Linked DNA regions of Homo sapiens. The protein of the gene in region 2 interacts with the protein of the main gene of each other region in a pairwise test. Each region holds a gene or a part of one and is shown on either strand. Other genes may lie near its edges.

The links. The genes of interacting proteins can lie anywhere in the genome.
Region 1: the proteins of KRT86 (region 2) and IL16 interact in binary tests that used the Homo sapiens proteins (3 or more experiments, as listed by UniProt).
Region 3: the proteins of KRT86 (region 2) and SHC3 interact in binary tests that used the Homo sapiens proteins (3 or more experiments, as listed by UniProt).

What each region holds. Positions count from the first base shown.
Region 1 is NC_000015.10:81,290,768-81,297,913, forward strand, and holds part of IL16 (pro-interleukin-16), read left to right. Parts: intron 1-1,788; coding exon 1,789-2,270; intron 2,271-4,250; exon of another isoform or gene 4,251-4,564; coding exon of another isoform or gene 4,565-4,615; exon of another isoform or gene 4,616-4,681; coding exon of another isoform or gene 4,682-4,753; exon of another isoform or gene 4,754-6,160; coding exon 6,161-6,311; intron 6,312-7,146. UniProt on the Homo sapiens protein: Interleukin-16 stimulates a migratory response in CD4+ lymphocytes, monocytes, and eosinophils. Primes CD4+ T-cells for IL-2 and IL-15 responsiveness. Also induces T-lymphocyte expression of interleukin 2 receptor. Ligand for CD4.
Region 2 is NC_000012.12:52,269,777-52,277,676, forward strand, and holds the start of KRT86 (keratin, type II cuticular Hb6), read left to right. Parts: upstream 1-4,868; 5' UTR 4,869-4,943; coding exon of another isoform or gene 4,944-4,946; exon of another isoform or gene 4,947-5,301; intron 5,302-6,044; coding exon of another isoform or gene 6,045-6,170; intron 6,171-7,900.
Region 3 is NC_000009.12:89,168,784-89,175,929, reverse strand, and holds part of SHC3 (SHC-transforming protein 3), read left to right. Parts: intron 1-7,146. UniProt on the Homo sapiens protein: Signaling adapter that couples activated growth factor receptors to signaling pathway in neurons. Involved in the signal transduction pathways of neurotrophin-activated Trk receptors in cortical neurons.

The DNA of each region.
Region 1 (7,146 bases), on a different chromosome or scaffold from region 2:
TACAAATGTGCCAGGCTCTCTCCAGCTCCCGGTGGTCTCCACCGTTCCCTTTATCCTGTACCAAGTTGCCATTCACACAATAGCCCCTGCAGGCACTTGAGTTTGCAGCCCCTAGTTTATAATAATAGAATATTAGAAAAACTAACATTTGGGAATATAATTCTGACATTTATTTAATTCTTATAATTCTTATAATAAATCAGAGACTATGCTAATTCATGCATTCACACATAATTTTTATGCAAATTTTATAAGAAAAAGTGAGGCCCTCAGAGACTCTCTTACTCAAAGTCATACCACTAGAGCACAGAGGCTCTGGAATGGAGATCCAGCTGGCTTGACTCCCATGCCTAGCCATTGGGCATTAATCACGTCTACCATGGAACATCCTTATGAAAGAACAACATGCAACCATTGGCACTGATATTGACAAGAAATTAAATGATCTGGGGAAATGTTCAGAGAAAAGAACAGAACACAATTTATTTCAGCTCTGGTTTATTATTTCTACCCACCCAACATGCATATATGCTCGGGAAAGCATGACAGAGAAACTCACCAAAATTTTGACAGTAGTTATTTCTGGCTGATAGGAACACAGGTGAAGTGAATTTTTACTTTCATTCCTTCCTCCTTGTGGCTGAGTTTTCTCTAAGGAGGATGCATTATTTCATGATCAGGAAAAAAAAAAAGAAAACTTTTTATTTAAAGAGAAAGTGAGTTAGGAGCTTGGCTGGCCTTGGTTCTCTCTCATGGGGCTCCTCTGGCTTTCTTGGTCTCTCAGAATGAGCTGGAATTTGAGCAAGAGACTAGATTTCAATCCTCTCCCACCCCTTCAAGCTGTGATTTTAGGAAAGGGGCACCCTTGACAGCTTACCACTAGAGAGAAGGGCCTCTCAAGGATGTGTGGGTAGCCCTAGTGCTGGAAACTAGGGTAGGGGGTACTGAGAACCAGGAAGGGCTAATGGGGAGGGAGGGAGGAAGGTGCAGTGGCTAAGAAATAGCGGCTTTCTGCCCTCACCTCACCCTCAACTGGAAAGAAATAGTGACTTCTTCGTGTAAGATTCAAAGTGCCTTGACAGGTAGTTTCTCTGTCTTTGTTATTGAGCCTCAAAATAACCCCAGTGACTTTAAAATTATCATCCTCATTTTACAGATGCAGAAATGGAGTTGGGTCCCCCAGGAAGCTGACTCTGAGATGGAGTTTGGTCTGCAGGCAGTGTCCTGGGGTTCACTACCTGTGGCAGGGAGGGGAGCAGGCAGGGTAGACAGAGGGAGGACGGAGCTGAGGTGCACACCCAACAGCTTCAGCCAAGCCCTGGAGCTCTGCAGCCAAAGTCCCCATTAGAGTTGTCCTATGTTGGCCAACATAGCTGGGCCTCTGTAACCCTATCTCCAGCAGTCCCTGGAGATGGGCTGCCCCATTGGACAAGGCAGCTGTCTGCAGCTGTGGCAGCCCCTGGAGGGACCCACAGCTGAAAGTAGTCTGCCAGCAGCACTCCCCACAGCTGGGACACCAAGCCCTTCCTCGATGGGTGATCTGGGTGGCATATCTCCATATACATCAGTCATAGGCTCAGAAAGCTTGAATGATTTTCCCAACCCAAAGTCATACAGCTCGCCAGGGACCAACACCAAGACTGCCATACTCCAGATCCACAGTGACTTCAGATAAGAAGCAGATGGCCGATGTGCAGTGTGCTGCCCGTGGCAGTCACAGGTGAGGCCAGGGGGTATTTCTGTTTTCTGAAGCTCAGCTGTGAAGATTCTCTTGTGCTTCCCACACAGGTGTCAAAAGGCTGGAAAGCAGTTGGCACGGGCGGCCCACCTTGGAGAAGGAACGAGAGAAGAACTCAGCACCCCCGCATCGCAGGGCTCAGAAGGTCATGATCCGCTCCAGCAGTGACAGCAGCTACATGTCTGGGTCCCCAGGGGGAAGTCCTGGGAGTGGCAGTGCTGAGAAGCCGTCCTCTGACGTGGACATCAGCACACACAGCCCCAGCTTGCCTCTGGCACGGGAGCCAGTGGTGCTTTCTATAGCATCCTCCAGGCTGCCCCAGGAGAGCCCACCCCTCCCAGAGAGCCGGGACAGCCACCCGCCGCTGAGACTGAAGAAATCCTTTGAGATTTTGGTGAGAAAGCCTATGTCCTCCAAGCCCAAGCCTCCACCCAGAAAATACTTTAAAAGTGACAGTGACCCTCAGAAGAGTCTGGAAGAGAGAGAGAACTCCTCATGCTCTTCTGGGCACACCCCACCCACCTGTGGCCAGGTAAGAGGATGGGTCCACAGGTTGAGTGTTTCCAGGACCAGACTCAAATCTTGAGCATGGGCAAATTAGCAAGTTAGTGTTAGCAGGGCCAGAATGAAAGTTTCTCCTGCTCCACCAGAGAGAAACTGTTGCCTAGGACTCAGCTGAGGACTGACCATGAAAAGATGGGTTTGAAGGTTGACAGATAATTGAAGTCCCAGTCCTGCTTGCTGGCATCTGGGTTCCCACCCATAACACACTGGAATTTAAGGTTCCTTTCTTGTGTCATTTTTCACTCACCATGAAGGAAAAATACCAGGGCCCCTGCAGGGTCTCAGTCTTTGCATGTGGATCTTTGAGTGTCCTGCTTGTAGGGAGAATAGTGGCTTAAATAACTAAAAAGGGGCCTGGCACGGTGGCTCATGCCTGTAATCCCAGCACTTTGGGAGGCTGAGCCGGGTGGATCATGAGCTCAGGAGTTCAAGACCAGCCTGGCCAAGATGGTGAAACCCTGTCTCTACTAACAATACAAAAATTAGCCGGGTATGGTGGCAGGTGCCTGTAATCCCAGCTACGCAGGAGGCTGAGGCAGGGAATTGCTTAAACCCGGGAGGAGTGGCTCCTTCCAAGGGCTATTGTGAGGATTAAAGGTAACCACTTAAGGCAAGTACCTGACAGCATCTCAGGCATATTAGCATTCATTGCCATGATCTTTCCCCATCAGGCCCCTTAAAGCCCTCCTTTCCACCCCTTGCATAAAAGGCAGACTGACTGACAGACAGCTGCTGTGTCTAGAACCATTTTATGCGCAGGCTAACCACACTGAGTACTTTCATGTACATTGTGTCAATTAAATCTTACAACCACCTGATGGTGAGAGTCCCAGTTGTGCAAAGAGGGAACTGAGAAACTCGCTCAAGTTCACATTGCTAGTGGGTCACAGTTACCCACTATGCAATGCTGAGTTTCCCATCCTTACCCAGAAGCTGTCTCCCCCATCACGGAATGGCCCTGCAGGGGCCCTGGCCCTTCCCTTAAGCACACCGTGGGCAGGTGGGAGGGGGCCTCTGGAAATCCCCTAAAACAATCTACAGTGAGGGTTGGCAAGCTTCAGGAGGGGTAGCGGTGGAGACGGGATGTTGAGTAGGAGGGGTGAAAGTGAAGGAGGGAGGAGGAAGCCAGGTTACTAAAAAGGAAGTGCAGTTTTGCAGAGCGCTGGCAGGATGTGGCTGGTTAGCAACACATGATGGAGTTATCAGATGGATCTGTTCTCCCACCCCCTCTTTTAAGCCCATATTTCATTTTCCCTTGGGCCTGAGACCTATGAGTCCAGAAGGGCAAATCAGGAGCAGCCAGCTGAGAAGCCAGTCATTTTGCCTTCCTCCTGGAGGCCCAGAAAAGGAGTGCAGTTGCCACAGCAGGTCTGTCCCAGTGATGCCCTTGGCAGAGCCACATAGGGTCAGGGAATATTCCCGAGTAAGGCGTCTGGAGAAGGAACTGGGGTGTCCTCAGGGAAGCCCAGGCAAGGAACTTCCCACAGGTCATCTTTCATGCCCTGTGTGCCTCAGCAGAATACAGGGCTCCCTCCTGTACCTGCCCCCAACAGCACCGTCTCCTGGAGACAAGGCCGTTCTGCAGCTGCCCTCCTCTGTTTGCTCTGGTCTGTCCCACGTGGCCAGCAGATCCTTCTCCCACAAACATTTCCATAAAAGCAATCAGCACGACATAATTTTATTGGGCACTGGAGAGGCGGGGGTCACAGAGAAAGGATCATAGCACGCAATAGAAAACAGGAAGCAATTTGCTTGAGGTCACTCTCAAAATTTCCTTGACCATTCCTGGGGATTTCTCACTGGATGTTTTCTTCCGTGGCCACAGTGTCCACTGTCTCACTCTCCCACTTTTCCCTCCCTGCAGTCTTTTCTCTACAGGGTCCCAAGACTGTTGTCAAGCTGCTATGGATGACCCCCAAGTCTTTCCCATCTACTCTAATTCAAGGGGACTTAACTCTCACAACCAATATGAACTTTGGGATATTTTCTTCAACAAAAAACTAACATCCCTCTTATAAAAAATCAGCCTAAACTCTCCCCCGTGCTTTAAAAAACTTGCTTAAAAAAACACAACAGGATTTTCGAAGAATCCTTTCTTAGAAAACAAACAAAAAAACCAAACAAAAACGTACTTTCTCCCCACTATGCTGAATCTGCTCTCTCCCTCTTTCCTTCTTTCTCTTCTCCCTCCCTCATCCACCAAGCATGGTTCCAGGAAACACTAGTAAGAGAAAAATTTGTGTAAAATCAAATTTATTTCAGGGGCTAATTCTGAAGTCTCCCATGAAGAGGATGCAATATTGGATGTGTTGATGAAAAGACAAAACACATTTGTGCTGTTCTAAGTTGTAAAGCTGCATTGACTGCAGTTGGTATCACATGTGGCTGCCTGTAAAAGAGCTAACAATTCATGAATGTCAACAGATGTCAACTTACAGAGCTCCCAACCAGGTGAAATTAAATTTCATCCCCATGTAATTTCTCTTGTGGACAAGAGACTTAGAGATCATCAGGCCAATATTTGGAGCTTCTAATGCCATGACTCAGCCTTACTTTTTTTAAGGGCTAGTTCGAGAAGCTCAATGATTCCTTTGAAATTGGTTGATCTCTCAGTATTTCATAATGCTCTCCTAAAGCTCAGTTCTACAGTAGGGAACTCGAGCTGAGGCAATGCTCTGTGAATACACTTCTAACTTTTGTAGACCTTTGCTTCCTCCAAAATGTTTATTGTCAATGTAGATCTTAAATTTCAGGTCATGGATATTTGCCATTGCTTTTTTAGTCCCAAAGGATGCATTTGTTCCTTCCTCTTTCCTTCCTCTCTGGAAGGAAGCCTGCAGCCATGTCAAATGGCCCATCATTACACAAATCTGGAATGAACCGGACGTGGAGGCCACCGCAGTATAGCAAAGCATTTCTCTTGCAGACAATCAAATACAGGTGGCATCATTTTGATGATGTCTGCTTTCTCAATCTTTTTTTCCAGATGGGTATTATGTTTGGTTGGGCTATGTCTCTGGAACACTATTTTTCTGCCTCTCTGCCTGCAAAATTCTTACTCTGTTTATGAAGCAGACAGAAAGTACTTCTCTAGGAAGCCTTCTCCACCTCTGGGATGGAACTGGTCTCTCTGTTTCCTCTGGGCCCTGACAGTACCTTAAGCACACTGTGTGATAATCCAAACTCTTCAAGTATTGCATAGCTATTCAGAGCCTGGTTCATCTTGTCCCTAGGCTGTTTTGGGAGGACCCCAAGGCTGCATCCAGGCTCAGTGGTGGAAACAATTCTGCAACAGATTGAGGATGTCACCCTAGGTGCCACAGAGGGGAGCAATGGCACAGGTGCTGAGTATCTGTCATCTTTTGCAGAACACTTACTAAATATTTGAAGAGTGCTTAACAAGTGACAGCAATTGACAAGCATTTTCCTGAGTGCTCTAACCTTAGGGAACACTAGCTGCCAGGTTTTTTTGCTGCCTTGTTTCTACGCTGCCCTATACCCTCCCGGGGTGGGTAGTTCACCAGATGCAGTTGTAACTGAAGCAATGCCAGTCCCTCCACACTCAAAGCCTTTTGTTCCTATCATAAAGAGTCAGGGTCTTCAAGTATGTCAACAGTATGAGCCCATGACCTGGATACCAGGTTGCTGGAAGTCAAGGGATGCTCTGCATGTCTAGGAGGTGCTGGCTCTGCCACGTCAGCACCAAGGAGAAAAGAATCCTCTTTACATGGCTGCTGATGAACTTCTCACTGAAAGCAGCTCAATATCCGTTTTTCCGTCCCAATCAAAGCGTGTCTCGCCTTCTCACAGCTTGAGGCTACCGTTTTGACATGGTCTCGCTTCCTGTTTACACCACAGGAAGCGAGAGAGCTGCTGCCACTGCTGCTACCACAGGAAGACACAGCAGGGAGAAGCCCTAGTGCCTCTGCCGGCTGCCCAGGACCTGGTATCGGCCCACAGACCAAGTCCTCCACAGAGGGCGAGCCAGGGTGGAGAAGAGCCAGCCCAGGTAAGCTTTCATTGAGATCTTCCAAAAGGAAGGGTCTTTTGAAAAAAGGTGCAGGGATAAGATAAGAGCACAAATTGGCCTGAGGATCAGAGTGCTCTGCATTGACATCACCACTGGACCTGGCTGATCAACAGTCAAGGGTTCCAGGTGCTGGGCAGCAGCACCGTGGAGGTGCTGTCCAGGGTGGGGAGCCTCCTGGGTGGACGGGTGATGCTGTGGGGGTGGCAGCAGGAATGCAGGCCATTCTGGATAATTGGGAGGATGGAGCCCTTGGAAGAGGTCCAAAGACACACCCACCCAGCCATCCTGGGCAGCTACCTCTAGGGTGCCAACATTCCAGTTGCAACAGTCCTGCTGCATTCAGGATTTCTGAGTCAGAGAATGCAACGCCAGAAAAGTATAAATAGCATCTACCAGTGGTCACCTCCTCCATGAGGTGGATAGCAAGGGTGTGTCCACATGGTACACCTGACAATGCTAAGACATGACTTGAATATTTATTTGCTTGCTAGAGAGAGCATAGGACTTGAAGTCAGGGAATCCTGGATCTGTCTGTCATTAGTATGATTCTGAGCAACCTACTTTGCCTTTCTGAGCCCAGATTCACTCATCAGCAATGTGTGGAAGAGCACGTAGACCCCAAGCATATGATGCATTCAGCAAGCACACATTGAATGCTGGCTTCGTGAGGCCCTGTGCTAGATGCTGGGGGGAGAGAGAGAAAGGGATGAGACCAGGTAGTCAGGTCCTGCCTCCAAGGAGCAACTAGTAGTGGCAGGAAATAAACATATAGACTATAAAACATATGACTGTTTGAGTAACACTACAGAAAAGC
Region 2 (7,900 bases):
CCTGGTTGTTACTTTTCTCCTTCCATGACGTGCACTGCTCCTGTTGGTAAACTTGCTTGTTTTTCTCTTGTTAATCTGTCTGTTGTTGCAGGAGTCTGTCTCAACTACGAATTTATGTGGGTTGAGGAAAATTATAATTTCTCCCCTTCAGTAGGAAGCTCTTATTCTCTCCCTGTCCAAACATACTTGTCCATGTTCAAGATGTCAGTCACTTTACTGGATTAAAACATGCATTTAATCTTCTTTAAATACATGTGGATTGAATGAGCTGTAATCAAATCCACATGTTGTGGATCCTAAGGTCATCCTGATTTTTTTTTTTTTCTTTTGAGACAGGGTCTCAGCCGAGTACGGTGGCTCACCCTTGTAATCCCTTTGGAACTTTGGGAGACCGAGGCAGGTGGGTTGCTTGAGCCTAGGAGTTTGAGACCAGCCCAGGCAATATAGTAAGAGCTCATATTTACAGAAAGAAGGGATTGAGGCTGGGTGTGGTGGCTCACACCTGTATTCCCAGCACTTTGGGAGGCTGAGGCAGGTGGATCACTTGAGGTCAGGAGTTTGAGACCAGCCTGGCCAACATGGTGAAACCCCATCTCTACTAAAAATACAAAAAATTAGCCAGGCATGATGGTGCGTGCCTGTAATCCCAGCTACTTGGGAGGCTGGGGCACAAGAATTGCTTGAACCTGGGAGGTGGAGGTTGCAGTGAGCCGAGATCGTGCCACTGCACTCCAGCCTGGGTGACAGAGTGAGACTCCATCTCACAAAAAAAAGAAGGGATTGAGATTAAACCCCAAGATGGAGTCCCTCCTAGTCAGGGTGTCAGTCCCTCGCACAGACTACAGGGAAGCAATGCCATCTTCACCCCTGGAGATGGAGGTGAGAAGAAGCCATCCTCCTGGCTGCTCCCAGCTGGTAGGAAGCCAGTGCTGATTGGAGGTGGGGCTTTTTGGGACCAGCTCCCACCCCGACCAAAGGGTTTAACTTCTTATGGCTGTCTCTGTGCAGGTGTGAGCAGCTCCTTGGTGGGGTTGCCTGTGGGGGCCTCTTGGCCACCTGCACCTGCGGCATCAGCTCCTGTGGGATGGGGCCTGTGGCAGCAGCTACAGGAAGTGTTAAGTTGGCAGAGCTTGAGGATGCACCCAGCCCAGCCTCTCACCCTTGCGAGGGTCCCAGCTGGCCCTACCTGACCTTGTGCAGCCTGGTGGCAGGGCGCCACTGCTTGACCCACCCTGATCCACGTTGTCTGCTTCCCACTTCTTACTTCTTGTTGTGTGGGAATCTCTCTTCCTTGGCCCCTGCTGCCCTCAAGCTGAGAAAGGCTATTGAGAGGAGTGGCACGTAGCCCATGGGCATGTTCTGTTTGAGGATTCTGACCTGACTGAACCCACGAAGAGGATAGCCTCTCACCAACCATCTTTCAACCTTCTGCTTCCCTTGCTGTCTTGCTCTTCCCTTCCCTTCTCTGGTCTTCTTTTCCTCCTTGCTTCTTGCCTCCTTTAGAAGGCTAAAATTTAATAGACTGACAATACCAAGTGTGAATCAGCTGAAACTTTTGTGGAGTGTAAAATGATTGAGCAACTTTGGAAAACAGTTTGGCAATTTCTTATGAAGTTAAACATGCACTTATCAAATGATGCAGCAATTCCACTCCTGGGTATTTGCTCAAAAGAAATAAAAGCAGATCTATACAGAGACTTGTACATGAATTTTATAGAAGCTTTATTTATAATAGCCCTAAATTGGAAACAACCCAAATGTGTACCAGCAGATGAATGGATAAACAAATTGAGATATAGTCATACAATAAAATATCATTCAGCAACAAAAAATAATGAACTAGATTCATTCAGTGGTGATTAGATTGGAGCATACATCTGTCAAAATTTGTTGAACTGTACTTTTAGAATGTGTGCGCTTTATTGAGATACAATTGTATGCAAATTATATGTCAATTAAGTTGATAAAATAATGATTTAAAATGCATAAGATACTTAGAAATAAATCTAACACATATGTGAAAGACTTACACCTAGAGAAATATAAGCGTTACACAAAATGTTATAGGAAAGAAAAGATAAAGAAGACATAATTAAATGAAGAGCTATACCATGTTCTTAGATAGGAAGCTTTACTATCATGAATATGTTAATTATCCTTACAGTGATCTACAGAGTTGACGCAACTACACTCAAATTCCAAATGAAGATTTACATAATTCTTGACAAGTTGATTCTAAAATTTATGGGGAAGAACAAAGGTCAAGAACAGCTAAGGAATGATGAGAAGGAAGAAATAGGTACTCTCTCTTTCAGGGATTATAATGTATTATAGAGTTATAGTAATTGAGAAAGTATAGTACCCACACAAAAATAGACAAACTGACCAATGGAACAAAATAGCCCCTAAATTTATTTATAAATAAGTAAATGATTTTGTTGTAAAATAGAAGTGGTATGGCAGATCAGTAGTGAAAAGGACTATGCATTGGTTAACCACATGTAAAAAATAAAATTAGATCCCTGTTTTCTCTTATACACAAAATCAGTTTCAAATTAATTTAAATTACAAATGTCAAAAGCAAAACTTTAAGAATTTTAGAAGAAAATATTGGAGAATATTTTTCTGACCTTGGTGTAGAGAAGGATTTTTAAACATGTCACATAAAATGCTCAACATAAAAGATTGATAAATTAGATTACATTAAAACTAACAACTTTATTTTTCAAAATAGGTGATAAAGTGAAAAGATAAGCTGTAAACTTGATAATATTTGTGATATATGTAAGTGATATAATAGTAATACTCAGAAATATAAAGAACACTTATAATCCTTTAGAATACAGCAAAAACCCAATAGAAAAAAATGGACAAAAGAAAAGGAAATACACATGTAATAGACATTTAAAGAGATATTAAACTTTAACAGTAATCATGAAAATACAAAGCAAGACCAAAAATGAGATTGCATTATTTAATTGTTGAAAATTAAGACACATTAAAGAGGATACGAATCTTTTTCACATTGCTGAGCAAAGTGTGAATTGTTATAACAACTTTGGAAAATAATTTTATATTATCTTATAAAGTTAACACCTTTATAAGATTCTGACCATCCTATGAGTCAGAAGTTCTGTTTGTAGTTGTATACAAATCCTCACATATGTGCATCGGAGGACATGTAGAAAAATGTTCATGGCACCACCTTTGTAAGAGAAAGAAACAAAACAAAACAGTAATAGAATTACCTAAAGTGTGGTATAGTTACACAATGGAATACTATAAGAATGGAATATTAATATTATAATGGAGGAATACTAGCAACATAATGTTGAATAAAACAAGACCCTGTGTGACACACTTTTTATAAAAAAAGAACAAAAAAACTGAAACAAATATATATTGAGGCATATGCATGTATTTGATAAAGCTAAGAAAAAACAAAGGAATTATATCAACTTTAGGGAAGTGGTTACCTCTGGGGTGGTTAGGAGAGGACAGGGTAGGGAAGGAGCATGGAGCTAAATGTAAATTACTAGTAAGATTTTAGTTTTGGGATCAGTAAGTAGGTTCATGAGTATTTCATTTTCATTATATTATAATAATAAAGTAATATGCTAGTTATAAGAAATAAACTTAAAACATGAGGACATAAGTTGAAAGTAAAAGAATGTGTTAAGGTGATTGGTTAGATCAGATTGCCTTACACATAGTAGAAGTAAATGATTTTTCCATGAAACTTATTTCAGTAGATGTGGTGTATTTGTACGTAGGTAGTGATTCATGATACAACATATATTTCTTATTTAGAGTTGAGGTTAAAAAACAGTTTGACAACTAGTACCCCAAAGAACCTCTTGTTGAGGTCCACCAGCAGATATGTACAAGAAAGTTCATGGCAGCATTGTTTGTTACAACAAAAACAAAAAACACATGTGCTACCTATAGGAAAATAGAGATATATGTATATGTGTGTGTCTATATCTGTATCTATCTATATATATGTAGTCATACTTTGGAATACTATACAACACTGAGAAATAAAACTACATGCATCAAAAAGATGAATCTCAAAACTAGTATGTTGAGGAGGAAAAAGCAAGTCATAGAAATGTACAAGGTGTAATTCTATTTATATAAAACTTAAAGGTAGGCAAAACTCAACACTAGTTTATGGATACACGTTATGACATAGTAATAAAGAAAAGCAAGGGAATGACCAATATAAAAACTCAGGACAGTGGTTACTTTGGGGATCAGATGGGGTTGGAGATGGATCAGCAAAAATCCCGCAGGGGGCTTTGAAGGTACTGGTGGGTACACAAGGATTTGTTTTATTATTGTTGCTATTGAAATCAATAAATGTAGGTTTTGCATACTCTTTTGCATATATGAGAAATTTATAAAACAAAAAGAAAATGCTGACCACAGCTTGTGCTCTCTAGCCCCTACTCATTCCTACAGGTTAAAGTCATTGCCCTACCCAAGATTTCCTACCAAGTCTTGGGACTGGCATCCCCAGTCCCAATTTCTTGCCCTCCTGTCAATCTTCTGCACTGCTTCTAGACAATCACATCTCATGTCAGGCCACTGTCCTGCTCAGACACCCTCTGTGGCTCCCCAGTGCCCATCCATAAGCCTAAGCTCCTCAGCTCCACACATTTCCTCCACCTGAGGTAGCCTTCCCCTCCTCCACTTTCCTTTAAGTTCCACTTCAGCCCAGAAACTTCCATTTTCCCACCTGGGGTCAGAGTATGGCCCTCTTCTACCCTATGCCCCTGAGGCCTCCTGGGCAGAACTCTGTGATTGTAATGAGATGAGGTCACAGAGCCCCCAGGAAGAAGAGGCCCTAGTCCTCAGTGGCAAGGATTCTGGTAGCTCTTGGGCTGAAGCTGGGCTTTGGTGCTCAAGAGAGGCTTGGAGGAGACCACAGTTCTTTCTCCATGGTGAGACTCATACACGTGGCTCCCTGGTCACACAGGGATGAGGTGTCTTGGACTTCACCCAGATCTGTTGGGCATACAGCTTTTGGGAACAGGAGCAGAAAAGTTGGGGGCAGTGGGAACACAGCAGAAATTGAGATGATGTTTTGAGGTCTGTTCCCCCACACTCCATCTGCCCTAGAAGAAAGTTTGCAATGGGCTGGTGTGAACAGTTCTTGCTCTCTGGGTTGAGGGGGTGTGTATAACCTTGGTGGAGAGCAAAGAGCATGGGCTTAAAATGTAGTCTGGCTCAACTGTCGGCTGGCAGGGTCACTCACTCCCCTCTTGCACGTGGTGGATGGAATGAGCCCCAGTTTGCCTGAGGAAAGACAATGGGAAAAGTCACATCCATCTGGCCAACTTCATGGGTGGTTGTGAGGCCCCAGTGAGATCGTGGAGTAAAAGCTTGTGAAAAGCATCAGGCACTGTGCAAGTGTGAGTTATTGTTCCCTGGCTATTCGTGTATTGAATGCACATGGGGGCGAGGTGCAAGAAGGGAAGTGGTCCCCTGATTTCATAGACAGCACTTCCCATAGCAGCCTTGGGTTTGGGGAAGAAGCTGGAATCTAGATCACTGTCCCTGGTTTCTGATTAATGGCATTCAAATTAAGGACATTTCTTCCTAATCCTAGATTTTAAAATGTGTTTTTTAAATTAGGAAATATTGAATTTCATTAATTTTTTTTGTACTAATTTAAATGGTTAGATGTTGTAAACTACAATAATCAGTTTCCTAGAGTTTAACTCTCCCTGTTCCTGGGATAAACCCTATGTGATCTTGGTCCCAAAGCTCCCCTCAACAGATCACTGCCCTGTGTTGCTGCCCTTCCTGCCTGAGTTCAGGCTTCCTTTGGCATCTTCTGGCCCCATGGGCACAAGGCAAGCTCACTGTGTTCTTTCAACAACCTTTGGAGATAGGAAAAATGATCACTCCCATTTCACAGATGGAGAAAGGGATGCCCAGAGAAGCTAGGTGACCACTGGTGACAGCAGGTGGATGGGCAGCCCTGTCTGGCCTCCTCACCTCCTGACTACAGCTCCCCTCTGCCGTCTGCTCCACAGTGTGAGGAATTAAAGGCAACTGTGCAGAAACACACGCAGAGCCTGAAGCCCAGCAAGGAGGATCTGAACAGGCTTAATCAGGCCATCCAGTGGCTGACGGTGGAGGTGGGCAGTGCTGAGAGTCAGGTGAGAGGTGGGAGTGGGGGGCAACAGAGTGGCCATGGTGGGATGGTGACCATTATTTATGACAACTGCCCCTCCCCACCTACCCTTTGGATTAGATGGCTACACTTTCTCTTAGTGAATGTCTAAGCATACAGCAGTGCAGCTGCATGCATATATCATGCTTACCTCTGCCTAGGACATTGTGTATTTTATGTAAGTAATGAACATGTAGGTAAATCTGTATGAAGATATATGCTTGTTTGTACATTATTATCTTTTTACTTGTGTATGTTCATTTTTATGTCTGTGTTTTGTTTTTCTCGCTCAGTATTACATTTGAGCCCATCTTCAGAAATTGCAAGATATTACCTAGAAACCCAGTTTTCTGGGTTCTATTTCAAAATGTGAAGATCTGGCAATGTTAAATTATGATTCTCAAATGGCAACATTTGGCTAGAGGAGAGAGGCCTCTATCATCTCTCTCTTCTTCACATGCGGTATAGGCTGCCTGGTGTGCCGCAGTCCCCACCACTCCCAATCCCATCCTTTGGATGTGAGGCAGAGGGTCCCTTGCCATTTATCACTGTCCTGGCTGCAAGTTATTATCCTTGTAGAAGAGAAAAGGTGCTGAGTCAATGTCGCCAGAGAAATGCAAGTCTGAAAATATAAAAGAGGTGCTGGTGATTTCAGGAAATGGGAGAGGGCAGATGTATTTGTGGAACTGGGTACTCCTGATGTATATTTAGCCTTCACCTTTTGATGCTTCCAGCTAGGCCTCTGCAAGCACTTGCATTTGTGAGCCTTAGAAAGGAGCTAGTCCTCCAGGATGTTTTCTTTCTCCCATTCTCTCTTAGCCTCCTCTCTTAACCCACCCACCTCCCAGCCCTCTCACACCCCCGCTGGCTCAAGTCTCACTCCATGGAGGGAAGGGCTTCTGTTCCCGGTCTTTTCTTGCTTTCTGCAGATGCAAGTGTCTCAGGCTTGGAAGGGTATTCATGGAGAGAGATCTCCCTTGTACAGGAATGGGTGACTCTGAGAAGGGATAAGCTGCTGAGGTTCTGAGGGGGCAGAGTGAGTGGGTGGGCCATCATGGTCAGGGTCCCACCAGCCACAGCTGTTCTGGTTCCCCAAGCAGCAAATACACTTCACCAAGGTCTTATTATTTTTCCTCCTGAAGAGTATAAACTCTAGGTTCCCGTGAGGAATGGATATTCTTCTTGCTAGTTTTCCTTAGGAAACAATAACCACAGCATTACATGCCAAAGAGCATTGGATGCTTCTGGGATCCTGGCTCATATTAGGAGTTTCTCCATACTAGACGTAAAAGGCTCTCTCTCAGCCATCCTAGATAGCCGGTTTCAAATCTTCACCCTGAAGGTAGACAGGTGGGCAGGTTCTTTTCATCTTGCCATACAGACAAACAAACACAAGTTTTGGAACAGGTGTGCTCACTCCTTGCAACCATGGACAATCTCCAATCCCTCATTGGCTCTGCAGCCTCAGAGCAAGGTCTGGATCCTTAAGGGGGAAGGAGTGAGGGCCAATAATGTCCTTCTGTCCTTGGTCTACCCTTCGCTCCCTACGCCCTGTGAACTAGAGGAAGTCAAGGACCCGCCAGCTCTGCAGGAGGAGGGTGGCTCTGGCAGCACCAAGGGCAAGCTGGCTTGGCTGGAGGCTGCCCTGCAGCGAGCTAAGCAGGATGTGATGTAGCAGCTGTGTGAGTACTGAGAGCTGTGATCGTCAAGTGGGGC
Region 3 (7,146 bases), on a different chromosome or scaffold from region 2:
TGGCCCTCTGTTGGCGCACATGTGCAAATTCCCGCATTGCCCATGTTGAGTTTAAAACCTCGAACTTATTTTATTGAAAAATTGTTAAACTGAAAACAATCTTAATTTGGCGTTATTTAGAATTTTTGAATAGTTCTACCGGTATCCTTACTTTAAAAGATTTCTGGTAGATAGAAATGGGCCATCTTTATCATATGACTAGATACCAATAGTAAAATATAAAGGTTTAGGGTTTGGGAAAGGATGCATTATTCTCTTTGATATAATTTTTTTCTAAATTAAAAATAAAGCCCCCAAATGTTTTCTAGTTTCCTGGAAAATTTATATACTGTATTATAGATTTTCCCCCTCAAAGAAATACCTACTTACAGGTGATATTAGGATATTGCACATATGAATTATAATTCAAAAATATTTCAACTTAATCTGAGAACAGGGACTGTAAAATACAGAAGTCTGGTGAATTTTGATCATCTAGGAAACATTAAACTATTTGAGCAACAGCTTAGAATGTGAATTAATGAAGGACTTAAAATTTAAACATGGAAGAAGTTCCTGAGCAACAGTAGAATTCAAAGCTCAAAGCATGTCTAATTGGTCCATCATTGAGTTTGCTGCTAAATAACAGAATGGGGCTATGCACACAGAAAGGCTGCAGCTTACTCTGCCTAGAGGTTTATATTCTTTTCAGCTGGGCCTCATTGGCAGCACCTTTTTACTCCCCTAAGTATCTTGACATTTCCTTTTTTCTTTTGGTGACGTAAAAGAAAGAACAAGGAACTATGCTCTTGATAGAAAAGAAAAATCCAACAGCAAAGAACAATGACTATTTTCATTAAATTTCCATTTTAAAAGTATTTGATATTTGGACCTAAAAGAAATACCAATGAGTATTGATTACGGTGCTGCCCACCTTTAAATTATCTTATCCTAAAGTCAAGCCTGGGTAGGACCCCAATCACTCAAGGAGGCTGCTGGTCTTTAGCAGGTTCAAAAGGCAATATCCTGGTCCTCCACCTTCTCTGTCCTCAGATCCACGGTGGGGAAACTGTAGGAAGGAATATGAACAGTGCAGGGGACAGGAGGCAGGGGTTCAGTTTTTAAAGAGCCAGTGGGCCATCTGAAGACAAGCACAGCCTTGACATTCAGCTCTGAAACTGCCTGCTGGAGGGGCGAGGCTGGAGCAGGAAGCAATGCTGTGTGGGCTGCACCGGGTTTGCCTTTGGCCCCAGCGTGGTCCCCAAAAGACGGGCTCCTTCTTAGAGCACATCACAGCACAGACTTCAAAAGGATAAGAAGTGACCATATTTAGAAATGACCCAAGTGCCAAGGGCAAGAATCAGGAGGCCCAATGTAAAAGCAATGGTTTTAGGTGCCCACTGCTCAGAGCTATTCCAACAGCGTCAGCATTCAGTGAGCCAGCAGATTACGCCATTCATAAACACCTGTGAAGGCTCCAGCGAAGTTACATAGGTTTCAGCTTGTGGAGTGTTGTATATTTACTGACAGTGAAAATGGCGAGCTATTTATAGGAGATTTAACGATCAGAAAAGTACTGCATTATTTCCTGATACACTGGACCCTTCCTGATATGCTTCCCTTTTGGAACAAAGCTCTGTTTTTACAAGGACTCTTTAAAAATTATTTTATTACTCCCATTTGTGCATCTAATGATATTTGGGGTGGTATAAATCATTTGCTTTATTTGTAAATGCTCTACTGCCTTTTATAGGTGGTCTTCGTAAATTACATTTACTCAAAAATTTATTCTTAATTTTTTTCACTTGACAAAGTGTATAAAAATATCTTAAATTTTCATTTTCTCAGAGCTGTATTCTTTTGGTAACTGTGAGCAAAGATCATACAAAAGTTATTTTAACTATATTAAAATAACTATATCAATTCTACTATAATATTGTAGAATTTTATTTTACCTCTAGACTGAAAAATTGATTTTGATGTGGAGTTGAACTTTAAAAAGTTGATTTTTTTCTCAAAATTCTTTCGAAATCTTATGATATGGATGGCTTACACGTAAATATCTAAATGGTTTGAAAAATAGTTTAAGAATTTCTTTTGACATTAATATATAAAGTTATTAATTTGATCTGGATAGTGAGTTGTCTCTTTTTATGTGACACAAACATAGATGTGTTAAAGGCACACACACACCACACACATATACACAAACCACACACACACCTCACATATACACACACATATGCACATACACACCATGCACCCACACACAACCATACAGACACTGCACACACACAACACACACACCCCACAGCCCACAGGTAGATGACTTGTGATGACTTTGGATGGGGGCTGTTTTCTTTCTTGTTAGAAAATAGGAAATGTCATATTTCTAGAAATACCCAATTATCTCAGTCATTTCTTTTATATTCATGTTTAAGAAAAAGATAAGCTACGACAAAACTTCCATCCTATAAAGAACAGATGGCTGCTTCTCTGCCTCCGCACGGTGTCTTACCTTTGAGTATATGTCATAGTTTTGAGGAATATATGATTACTATCATTAAAGCAGAGTCCTGGGAACAGAAAGCCTGGGCAGCAAACACGTGAACCCACTTGCAAGACTGGCTTTCCAGCCAACAGGCTGGCCCTGCAGGATGTGCCGGTGCTGCTGGCCTGCAGTGCCTGGCTTAGGGTAGGGGACATTAGAGCAGACACCTGGCCTGGTGAAGGTCCTGGACTGGTGAAAGGCAGGACACCTGGGCTGCAGCTCCACCGCCAGCTTAGTGTGGGGCTAGAGCAGTCAGCTCACCTCTCTGGACCTGGCTGTCCCTGGCTGCAGCAAGTTGAAGGCAGGGTTGTGCTGGGGTTGGTCTCTATGGGTTGGAGGCCTGGCCGAGGCAGAAATGGTGGCATCTGTATTGTTTTTTGCACCAGCATCTAATGTAATTGGAAGAGACGGGCCCAGGGAAGCACACTGCAGTATCAGGAGTGTGCTCACCTGATGGACACCTGCTGGATCACTGGGGCCAGGGCCAGACCCTGCAGTACAAGGATCCAAGTCCATGGTGGGGCTCAGAGGAAAGCAACAAGGAAGAGCCAGCATGTTCAATGAAAATACCCAAGGGCAGTAGAGTTAGTGAATTATTTAATTCATAAATAAAATGGTTTCAGATGCAATGGAAAGAAATGACCAGTTATGTGTGTTTCCTGGGTAAAGGACAAGAAAACAATTTTGCAATTTATCATAAGAGTTCTATAGTATGTGGTGGAAAAATAATATCTTTAAGGTGGGAGGCAGTGAGCATAGGAACAGCCTACTGAGTGGGTGGATGTTGACCATCGTGTGTGTGTGTGTCTGTGTGTGTGTGTGTCTGTGTGTGTGTGTCTGTGTGTGTCTGTGTCTTCGTGTGTGTGTGTGTCTGTGTCTGTGTGTGTGTGATGGGGTGTGGGGATGTGCAGCTGCACAATATGCCTTACAAGTTGGTTTTGGTCTTACAAGTTCATAATTACTCATTTTCTGTTGAGTTAAAAAACAAAACAAAACATTTTGACCCCACTGTGATTTTGCCTCTCCCCTCCCAACCAAAACAACAACAGTGTGACAAGGATCCACTGAGGGTCCACTGGGAGTAATTAATCCATGTCTCCCAGTGCTAGAATTGGTGAATTTTCCCTGAGTGGCCACGTCAGAGTTGCAGAGCAGTCACGGTTATAAATAAGCAGAGTGGCACCAGTTACACTGGGGTCAGAGGGATTAGGCATCCCTATTTGGACCATTTGAACCCCAGTGAGATACCAGGGGCCAAAGGCCATGTTTCCATGGTTACAGGCCATGCTGATCTTCTTTGTCTTTGTGAGGAGAGTTGGTGAGAAGGTGCCGGATATACCTCAGCCCTCCTGTACCACCTGACATGACTGGAAGAGGCACTGCTCTTCTTGGCTGGCGAGCATCTTCTCAGCTCTGGATGGCACCTCTGGCGGGTTTCTTTTTGAGGCAGGTGGCAGCAGTTTAGTTAGATCCATGGATTCTATGATCTATGGATTCTGGGCTCAGACATGCCTTGCTCTGCACCTCAGCTGGTCTGGCAGATACCACTGCCATCTAGTGAAGATTTGGGTTTCTAGCCATGAGCCCAGGTGCCTGTGAGGATCTGCAGTGAAGCCTAGATGCTGGAAGAAGCTGCAGAAAAGGGAAATCGAGGAGACAGCTTGAGCAGGTGCCTTACCCTGTCCATTGGAGCTTCCAGGTGCCTGATGCCTCAGCAGCTGTCTGGATATCTGAAGCTCCTCAAAACCAAGAAGAAAAATGTTCAAAGAGCTCATTGTTATAATGCTGCTTACTTCAGACTTGAAGCCATCCTTGGATATCATCTGAAATGCATGGTTTCCCCGAAGTGGAGAACCCCTCAAAAGAGGCTTTGCTCACTTTCGTCTATTGAATAGGCAGAAAAAGAAGCAAACAGTCCATTCCAAATTTCAAGAATTTAAACTCGTATGAACCCTTCAAACTCTGGAACTTGGCCTTCACCCAGCCTCACATCAGAAGTGCTCTCTACTCTGAGGTCATTCTGACAAACTTCATTTTATCAAATTCCATTAAATATAATTGTTTGGCAATCTACTGACAATAGTGCTTTTTGCTTTGCAAACATTAAAAATTTCCACTGCCACCTGCCCAAATAGAAACTTTCTGTTTTTTTCAAAAAAAAAAAATCAAAATATGGTTCTAGCTCTGTTGACAAGGAATTTACCCCTAAGGTGGTATTTAGCAGAGGTACTGTATACTCTGGGCCTCTTACAGTTTACCAAAGCAGGAGTCACAGATGGCTTTTATTTCTTAAGATAAAATGATGAAAACCTAGTTGTTTTGAGTGTTCTTTGCCTGGAAGACACAGCCCTTCACAATGACTTATTGTCCCTCCGGAAGATGGACAAAATGTAAGTGAATTATGAGGGGTTTGTGTACAATCATCCCTTGAGATCTGAGGGGGATTGGTTCCAGGAACCCCATGGATACCAAAATTCGAGCATGTTCAAGTCCCTGATATAAACTGGTGCAGTATTTGCAAATAACTTATGCACATCTTCCATACACCGTATACTATAAATGTAATATCTCTAGATTACGAATATCTATTATAATGTAAATGCTACACAAATATTTGTTATACTGCATTGTTCGATTTGTGTTATTTTTAATTTTTGTATTCTTATTTTTATCATGTATTTAAAAAAATATTGTCATGAATTTGGAGGGCCAACTGTATTCCATTATTCCCTAGCATATGCACTTGTTTATTTCTGAGATGGAGTCTTGCTCTGTCGCCCAGACTGGAATCCAGTGGCCTGATCATGGCTCACTGTAGCCTTGACCTCCCAGGCTCAAGCGATCCTCCCTCCTCAGCCTCCCGAATAGCTGGGACACAGGCACACACCACCATGCTTGGCTAATTGTTTTACTTTTTGTAGAGATGGGGCTTCCCTATGCTGCCCAGACTGGTCCTGAACTCCTGGCCTCAAGTGATCTGTCTGCCTCAGCCTCCCAAAGTGTTGGGATTACAGGCATGAGCCACTGTGCCAGGCCGACATATGCATCTTTCTAGGATTAAAGTGAGTAGTGCAGGTGTCTCTTCTGGCCATGGTGGGCCCTCCCTGCTGATTTTGACTGCATGAGCTATGCTTCAGGCTGGCAAAAATACAGGTTGGCCCATGCCAGGCACATTGTTTAGTTCCTGGATGTGCCCCTGTGCTGTACCATGTCGAATCCCAAACAGGAGCCCCTCACCACCCAGGATTTAGCGCATCCCTCCTTGCTGCCTCTCCCTCTTGAGTCTTGGTTTGGACGCCTCGGATCTTCCCAAGGAAAAGGCCTCCACAACCCACTCAGCAGGAAAGGCCCCTAAAAACTGGCAGCAGGAGAAAGAGAGCCTTGAGCCCATTTGTCCTGCCCATCCCTGACCTGGCAGGAGGGGTGAGGGAGCCTAACCCGCCTCACACTGATCTCCACCTCCTCCGCTTGCAGCCCTGCCTGTCTTGCAAGGTCACCTGCCAACCTTGTAACATGCCTTGTAAACCACCCTTTTATGAAATTTAAACATTTATTATGAGGATTTTAAAACATACATCATCATAGGAAACATATAAACACAACAAAATAGAGAGAATGGTAAAATGAGGCCCCAGGGACAAATGGCCCGCCACCCAACTTCAACAGCCATCAGCTCAGTGCCATCTGCACCCCACCCCCGCCTTGCACTATTTAGGAGTGGTTTCCAGACTTTCGGGTTTTGCCTGTTGCTCTTCTGTGGACTTGTGTGGGCCTGCCTTTGCCCTGGTGTGGGTCAAGCAGTGGCCTGGATGTCCAAATTCCTTCTAGACATGAAGGCCCTCCTCACGCAGTGGGAATGAGGGCCTCAAGTTGGCACGTGGTGACTGTCCTTCAGGAATGAACTTACAAATGTGTTAGTGGAGCTCTAGAATTGTGCAGGTCTGGGTGGTGCCTCCGCCTCAGTGCTTGGAGAGCACACCATGTTCTTGACTAATAAGTTGCAGCCTTGGGCTTAACAGTGATACCAAATATGGCCAAGTGGTTCAGGGTCCCGTTATGTGCTCAGACGTCCTGGATTTGACTCTGTGGTCCCTGAGAAGCACTGAGAGCTGTGAGGAGGGGCAGGCCTCCTAGTCCTCAGGTGGGGAGGTGGGAGTCACACCTCTCAACCTCCTCTGCTCAGTGTCCGGCAGGGCCTCTTCCAGCATCAGAGGAGCCTTCTGGAAATGGGTGTTCTCCCAAGTTGTTTTTAATAGTATTAGTCAGGGTTCTTCAGAGAAACAGAACCAAGAGTTGCTTATTAAAAAAGAGATTTATTATAAGGAATTGGCTTGCATAATTTTGGAGGCAGGCAAGTCCCAAGATCTGCAGGGTGGGCCAGACCCAGGAAAGCTTATGGTGTCAGTTCCAGTTCTGATGCTGTCCTGCTTGAGACCCAGGAAAAGCCAATGTTTCAGTCTGATCTGAAGGTGGGAAAAAATAGTGTCCCAGCTTGAAGACAGCCCAACAAGAGGAATTCTCTCCTATCCAGGGGAGGGGTCAGGCTTTTTGTTTTATTCAGGCCCTCAACTGATTGGACAAGGGCCACACAAATTGGGGAAGGCCATCTGTTTATT